Linked DNA regions of Homo sapiens: region 2 is linked to region 1. A link means that fine-mapping ties the variant in region 1 to the expression of a gene that starts in the linked region. Tissue or cell type: prefrontal cortex. Region 1 holds a variant in brackets; the other region holds the start of a gene. All regions are shown on one strand. Distances are between the middles of the regions.

Region 1 (4,360 bases):
CACAGCCGTAACTTACTGTTTCATGAGGAGCTGACATCTACTACTTAAATAAGAGGTGATATTTCCATTTTGGCTATATTCATTAGAGCTAAATAGGTAGTTATACATCACCAAAAGTTAAGGGGAAATATCCCTATGGGGAAACTGCCAACCTTGTTCTGTTGGTCTATTAGGTCCCTTTCAAAGGTGGGGTGGTATTGCTACTGCCAGTGTGGCAAAATGAGGACACTAAGCAGAGAAACTAGTAAGCCTGTCAGTCTGCCTGTTGAAAATACAGTTTTTTTTTTGTTTTTTTTTTTTGAGATGGTGTTGCGCTCTGTCACCCAGGAGACAGTGCAGTGGCTCACTGCAACCTCTGTTTCCTGGGTTCAAGTGATTCTCCTGCCTCAGCCTCCTGAGTAGCTGGGATTAGATGCACATGCCACCATGCCCTGCTAATCTTTGTATTCTTAGTACAGTCTGGGTTTCATCATGTCGACCAGGTTGGTCTCAAACACCTGACCTCAAGTGATCCATCTGCCTTGGCCTCCCAAAGTGCTGGGATTATGGGCATGAGCCATTGTGCCAGGTAGAAAATACAGTTTTTGATTTTATATTTGTATGCACGAGAATGGATTTTCTGCTGAGAAACCCTTTATATTGTGCCATTGGAAACAGACTCAATGACTTAAATAACATAGAATTTTTGTTTTGTGCAAGTGAAGAAAGGAACCTATATCATTCTGTCTTACCAAGGAAAATGGGGAAAGGTAATATTTCCAATAAACAGAGGACACTAGATAATTTTGGAAATAAGGAGTATATAGGTTAAACTGTTAGAAAAGAGAAAATAATATAAATTAAGAAGTGGACTTTTGATCTTTCAGATAAAATAATATAAAGGGATGGAATTTTGATCTTTCCTGTTTGTTATAAGCCAGGCACTCACTTTTAATTATATGTTTGTTTTTTTTTTTGCCTTTCTCTCCTTCCTTCTTGCCACCTTCTTTCTCTACCTCCTTTCCTTACTCCCATGCTCCCTTCCTCCTTCTCTTCCTTCCTCCCTTCTTTCTTTCCTTCCTTCCTTCCTTTATTTTGTTTTTTTGAAGGTAGGGGTGAAAAAAACATTGGAACATGAGTTGTCAAGAGAAAATAGATAAGAGAGCAGACATAAACTTCCCCTCCCATTTTATTTGACAGAAAAGAATAAAAGATGGTAAAGGAAGGTAATAACTATTGACCCTCAGTATTAACTTTGTTCTCTTGGGTAAGCACATAATTAGGTTGTTCTTTAAAATGCGTATTATGTAGTTGGCAGCAGGCTCTAGCTTCAATCAGATAACTCCTTGTGTAGGCAGCTTTTAAAATGCACATCGTGGACCAAAGGAACTTTTCTGGTCTATTGGGTAAATATGTATTAAAGTAATTTTTAAAATACTTACATACTTAATAGGCTGGAAGTGGTCAATGGTTTAATGAATAGTCATACATTTTAAAAAACATATTATTATTTATGCACTGACCTGAGTGAGAAAGTCTTTTAAAAATGACATATTCCTGTTGACTGTGTAATTTTGCAGTAATATCTTAAAAGTATTTCAGGAGAACAAGAGCCAATTTTAAAATTACATTATCTCATCGTCCCTTCGCCTGATTTTTTCCTGCTTGCTCTTCCTCTTATGGGATGTATTTTAATAGTCTCATTTGATAGACTCCCTGCTGGCCTAATTTCATTTTCATAGATTAAAGCCGATTTACATTCTAATTGTAATTTTAGTGTAGAATTTATTCTATGTTGATTCATAGTGTCTGGCACATAGTAGGCACTCAGTCAATATCTATTGAATGGCTTATTTTTATATTTTTGTGTCAATTTTGCAAGCAGACACTATAGCCTTGTGCCTACTATATGCTGAGCACAGTGTAAGAAATCACTCAGAAGTTTTTCTCTTACACAAAGGTCTTATCTAGATCCTTTATTTTTAAATATTCTACTTTCAGCTTTGTCAGTTATTAGCTGCCTCTGATGAATTGGCTCTCTCTCTGCATCAGTTTCCTCATCTACAAAAGGGGAACAATAACTCCAATTTTGCAGATTTCTTATTGGGATCTGTTGAAACTCTATATGCAAAATACCCATCACAATATGTGATGCCTGGTGAGCCCTCAGCAATGCCTTTTCTCTCTCCACCTGAATTCCCACCCAGAAACATGGAAAATAGTCATTTCTAGGCAGCAGAAGTTTCCAAACTCCACAGTGCCCTAATCACAAATATCAAAAAGAAAAAATTAATAATTGAATACATAGGCAACATTCTCTGGTGTCAGGAGCACAATTCTTCAATAATTTTCCAAGTCCCATTTCCTGGCTAGGACCCCCTGTGGGCCCTGATCTCTATGATCAGCACTATCCTGGGAATCCTAGAACCTTGTTGGTTCGGTTCCTCTTGCCCTCCCCTACCAGGGTGGTTCCACCCCAATGTTTGGGTTCTTTCCTTCCCTTCTTCTCACATATCCCATGGGAGTTTT[T/GTTTTTTTT]TTTTTTTTTTTTTTGTCAGACCTCAAGATCCCTTCTGAATTTCAGAAAATCCCACAATAAACAAACTACCCTCCCCAGAGTCAGGTTTTCTAAGAGCAAACAGGGGTAATGATATCTGCTGCAGCACAACACAGTAAATAGGGTTTTGAGAATAAGCATTATTAACAGGCTCACTGAACTGCTTCAAATCCTATTTGGAGGGAGGCATGGTATAAATAAATAAACATGCTCCCTGGATCCTTACTCTCTGAGGTTTAGTGAGCTACTTCAATCTTGGAAAGGCATTAAAATTGCTGGTACATAATTGGATTTGTTTTGCTATTAGGGTGCAGATCTCTAATTTTTTCCATGTAGGCCACATTCATGGAGCAGTAGCAGTCTTATTGTGATAGAAATGCTACCGGCAGTGTGACTCTTGGGGTCACCTGAAGGATAGAGAAGGGGAAGCAAGGGATACAAATCCTCGTGTTCCCACTTACTCTTAATGCATGCCTGTTTTTTCTTGCTGGGTAAATAGATAGGCTAGTAGTTCTAGGGGTCATTGTTATTGCGCTGGTAAAGGGTGTCTATACTTTACATCCTCCGTAGTCTGGGATTAGAAGGCTTTAACTTGTTAAATGAACTTATTCGAAATGCAAATCTGATCTGTAACTTACTTTTACTTATTGTAAGATTGTTTCTATATATTTGGCCTGGTAGGCTGTTCTAAAATGTGTTGCATAGCTACGCATGACTATTTTTAATAAGAAATTATTATTTTTTAAACCATCAGCAGCAGAAAGCAGTTTTCTCTTCCCAGTAGAAATGGAGAGATAAAGGAAAGTTAGAAAGTTTTCCAAAAGGCTAAAGGAAAAGTTAGAATTATCCGAAAAAAAGTGATGTACTGGATATATCCTTTTAGAGACAAGCTTGAGTCTAACCACAACTTTGAGGCATATATAAGTCTTTGGACAAAGAGAACAAGCAGAGGTTTGAGGGGGACATCTTAGTTTCAAGGCAAGCTGATGGGAAGATTTAAAGGGAAAGAGTGAACACAAATTTAGAAGAAAGCCTCAAGTGTAGGCTCTGATTCTTCAGTAGAGGGAGTCCAATTTAATTAGTGGAAATATAGTTCAGTTTAGAGATAACTAGGAAGACATAGCCTGCCCTGTTTGTTAATAGAACAGCTTATCTCCTTCAGGGTAGCTAAGAGAACAGATATCAGAGAAATTAGGTGAAAAATGTACCCCTGCAGCAATAGACATTGATATAACTGAAACTTTTCTCAGTGTAACTTCAGAGGCTCTTGCTTCAGGATAATAAAAACGTTTTCCCAGAGTACTCATTGAAAGATGGGGGTTGAGGTGGTGACGAGTTAACATGCATAGCACAGATATTGTTTAAAAATGGGGGCATGTAAAAGGGACCTAAGAGAAGGTTGTTTTACAAGAAAGGCAGGAGCGTACCTTAGGAAAGGATATTACATGATAAGCAGGGATGACCTAGATGCACTCAAAATCTATAATCTCAGATAAGAAAGGTGGTTCTAGAATCGAGAGCTAGAGGTCAGAGATAGCCCTAGGGAAACCAAGATTTTTAAGATAAATGTGAACAAAATAGCAAAAATGTGGAGCTCTGTCTTGTCAGTGGAATACTGATAGCCATACTTCAACACAGCGTGCTGAAGGAATCTTTAGGGAAAGGCAAAATCTGAACGTACAATTTGTACAATGTACAAATTACACCCTCAACACCCTTCGTGGCCATTTCTGGAGCATATCTTTCTTGTCCTTTCTATTCATTTAGAATATCTTTTTGTTTTGTTTTGTTTACCTACTCTTGCATAATTTTATTTTTAATTTTTGTATTAAA
Region 2 (4,166 bases), 560 kb before region 1:
GTTGATAGCAAGGGTTTTCCAAATAGATTAACCTCCCTGAATTTTGATTGCCCACTATTTCCCAAATCCCTTCAAGGCATTCTCTGTATGCTACACAATACACTAAGTATATATAAAGAAAGGAGTATATTACTCCATTCTTTATATAGGTAAAGCCTAAACTCCTTTTCTTGGAATATAGGCTCTCCAGATCTGAAGTCTGCCTAATTATTTACACTTTTGCTTTCACATACCCTTTGAACTTTCTCACATTGTCTTCGTGTTTGCATGTGCTGCTCCAGCTTCTAAGCATGCCCTCCCTGTCCTCATACCCCATTCCCCAGCCACTTATTACGCTATATGCTGTAGTCCCATTCAGCTCGGTTGCAACCTCTTCCCTAATGAATCAGTCCATCATTAACAAAGAAAGGGAGGGAGGGAGGGAGGAAGAGAGGAATGAAAGGAGGAAAAGGGAAGGAAGGGGAAGGGAAGGGGAAGGGAAGGGGAAGGGAAGGGAAGGGAAGGAAGGGGAAGGGAAGGAATGGGAGGAAAAGGGACAAATAATGAATGATATGCTCTAATCTTTTTCCCCTAGATATAGAAGACAAAGAGCAAAATATACTTCACTAAAATTGGATTTTTACATAAATGTTCTTTCCTTTGTTTTTTGGTTGCTGGTCCACTTACAAACACTTTTCATATTTGTATGTCTTTCCAATGGTTATCCTGTTTTGTTCATTTCAGGCATATGGCCCTGATCAGATTAACTGACATGATGTATATGCAAAGCCTTTTGAGTTCTTCAGAAAAATAAATTATCTTATTCAAGACTGATTGCTTATAAGGAACTTATTATAGCTAATATAGTAGGCACAATTTTTTTTTTGTAATTCTCCTAGATGAGTCAGAACTTAGTTTTGACGTAGGTAAAAATTTTATGGTCACAAATCTCAGGTGTGAGAAAATCTCTTTCCTTGATACTCTATATAAATAGAGGATATAAATATTTCAAGTCTGGAAGTAGTGAGAGAAGCTGGTAATTCTGGACATATAGTGACAGTCAAAAAGGAGCTCAGGTACAGGACTGGTCTAAGCTGCTCAAGATTCAGGAGACAGCCAGTACACAGAGAAGCTGAGGAGATACATAAGATATATCTAAAACATTTATCTAACCTTCTGTGGTAACAAGCTCCTTAAAGGGGCTGGATGATGTTGTGTTCACTTTTTATCACCAGCAAAGGCTAAGATAATGTATATAGTAAATATTTAGTAACTATTTATTAAATAAATAAATATTTAAGACAGAATAAACAAGTATAATAAATGAACCAATAAGAATGCACCATCTAAGTCAAAATAGCCACTTTTATCCTTAACATTGTACCTGCTTTGGCTGCTGCAGAAGCAAACTTGTTGGCATTAGACAAATCAAGCTGGTGATTTAATAAATTCCAATGTAAGTCTTACCAGTATTGATGAATAACTATCCAGCACTCACCATGAAAGTTAAAGAAACAACACAGAAAAAGTTCCTAAGTGGTCCCAATTTGAAATGATCAGATAACCTATAAAAGAACATATTCATATTATACTAACATAAACACATATAAATGCACTTACAGCAGTTACACAGTATTCTCTTCAATAACTAGTTTCCTTATGCATTAATGTGTAATAACAGCAACTACAATATTTAGATAATTATAAAAACCAAGGCAATAATTTAAAAACTGATTAACCGTTTTACTCTAACTTAAGCATGGATTGGATCAGTAAGATTGATTAATAAATTTGAATGCAGTCAGTTGGATTGATTCTAATTTAAAGTTTTAATTTGTTGTAGAATAATTTTAAGTGAATATATTTGTCCAGTGTTCGAGTGCTCAACAGTGTGTTTGAAAAGGAAAACAAAGAAATGTTTTTGAGAAATGTGTTAATTCCTTAAGACAATGGATTTTAATTGGATCTAGTTGTTTTCATTTTTCTTCATTATCATTATACATCTGTATGTTGGACAGAACACTAACACTAAATAGTTTTTAGAAAAATTTTTTAAAGTTATTTAAATCATAATATCATGACTGACTTTTAAATTCAAAATTAGGCTGTGACTATCCTTCTTCACTTAGGAAGAGTGTTGTGAAAGCCAGACCATCTGCTGAGGTGCTACAGTTACATGTGGCCCTCAGAATGCATTTGGCCTGCTCTGTTTTAGCACTCTGTTGGATTACCAATACACAAAACAAGTTAACCTTGATCTTTCACATTAAGTATCTCAGGGACAAAATTTGACATACGTCTAAACCTGTGACGTTTCCATCTAAAGAAGGCAGAAATAAAACAGGACTTTAGATTCGGTTACAATAAAATATCAGATGCACCAGAGACACAAGGCTTGAAGCTCTGTCCTGGGAAAATATGGCAAACAGTGCCTCTCCTGAACAGAATCAAAATCACTGTTCAGCCATCAACAACAGCATCCCACTGATGCAGGGCAACCTCCCCACTCTGACCTTGTCTGGAAAGATCCGAGTGACGGTTACTTTCTTCCTTTTTCTGCTCTCTGCGACCTTTAATGCTTCTTTCTTGTTGAAACTTCAGAAGTGGACACAGAAGAAAGAGAAAGGGAAAAAGCTCTCAAGAATGAAGCTGCTCTTAAAACATCTGACCTTAGCCAACCTGTTGGAGACTCTGATTGTCATGCCACTGGATGGGATGTGGAACATTACAGTCCAATGGTATGCTGGAGAGTTACTCTGCAAAGTTCTCAGTTATCTAAAGCTTTTCTCCATGTATGCCCCAGCCTTCATGATGGTGGTGATCAGCCTGGACCGCTCCCTGGCTATCACGAGGCCCCTAGCTTTGAAAAGCAACAGCAAAGTCGGACAGTCCATGGTTGGCCTGGCCTGGATCCTCAGTAGTGTCTTTGCAGGACCACAGGTAAGCCATTATACACAAACTTATTTGGATATGGTGATCATAGATTTCCTATCTAAATTTGATATAAGGTCTTATCAAAGGAAGTACTGTATTACCTTTAAGAGCTTGGGTTCTGGAAGTCAGAGAGTGAAGTTTAATTCTGGCTCTGTTCTGTTACCTTGGGCAAACTTCTTAACCTCTCTGGTTTCAGTTCCTTTACCGATAAAATGTAACATGGGGGTTAATGCTTACTTAATACTGCTTTTGTGATGAATAAATAAATAAAGTAGCTCACATAATCTCTATTATGTAGCAAATGCTTCCCCAAAAAAAATGCGATTCTCAAACTTGACCTTATCTCCATCCTATTCTTTTATCTGTTTTTCTTTTTGTTTTGGTTGACATGGCTTTAATGTTTAGTTGAGATAATTTTTAGGAATTATGAAATTTGCCTAGGTAGAAAATATTTATAATGTTTCTTATTTAGGGTTTCTTCAGTGGAAATTTTAAGAATTCTGTCACTGCAGCTTAGAGAGAATTATTCTTTGTTAGTATGTTGCTCTGCAGTTTGCAGCTAAGTGGGACTGAATATAGAAGAAAAGTAAGACATCTTGGATGTTTGGAAATCCAAATATTTCCCTAAAGTTAGCTTGAGTTTTGCTGGAGGCAGCTTATTGAGAAAGCCATATGACTGACAGAGTAGGCACAGGCCCTCCCCACAGAGGGCAATTATCTTTCCAGGTTGCCTTCACCAGAAGCAGCCTAGTTAACTGACCTGCTGAACCTGCCATTTTAACAATCAGATCCCCGAAGAAAAGGACAAATTCTTGAAAATAACAAAGAATGTTAATAGCAGATGAACAAGTTTTCTCTTGCATTTAAATGTACTACATGATAAACCCAGGATACAAGGATGTGTCAAGAAATAAATCAGAATTAACTAGGATCCTCCAAAACTTGCCTCTGAAAATGGAAATTTATCTAGACTTTTTTTTACTGACCAGATGGTTAAAAAACAACAACAACAAAAAAAAACTGCCATGCAGAACTCACTATATAGCACAAGACACTAGAAAGCTGGATAACTGTTTTATCCCATCAATTTCTCACTTTAATATTTCTTTTGAATATGTGTGTGTTTCATAATAAGAATAATGGGAAAAACTAAAATGTTTTCATTTTCTGAAGAAAAATATATGATTTATTTCACAGTGATGCAATACATAAGAATAAGTTTAGCAAATATATCACCTGAAATGAGGTGATTT

Evidence for each region. PIP is the estimated chance that this variant, and not a neighbour inherited with it, causes the effect.
Region 2: GNRHR starts here. The variant in region 1 is fine-mapped to the expression of GNRHR in prefrontal cortex (CommonMind, PIP 0.94).

The regions. Positions count from the first base shown.
Region 1 is chr4:67,191,399-67,195,758 of GRCh38, reverse strand. No RefSeq gene overlaps it. Among named protein-coding and RNA genes, the nearest start is that of CENPC, 350 kb to the left of the region's middle. The variant T/GTTTTTTTT (reference allele first, on the strand shown) is at 2,509.
Region 2 is chr4:67,752,567-67,756,732 of GRCh38, reverse strand. GNRHR (gonadotropin releasing hormone receptor) reads left to right here and starts at 2,345. Exons shown (of 3, transcript NM_000406.3): 1 at 2,345-2,919. The coding sequence starts at 2,398.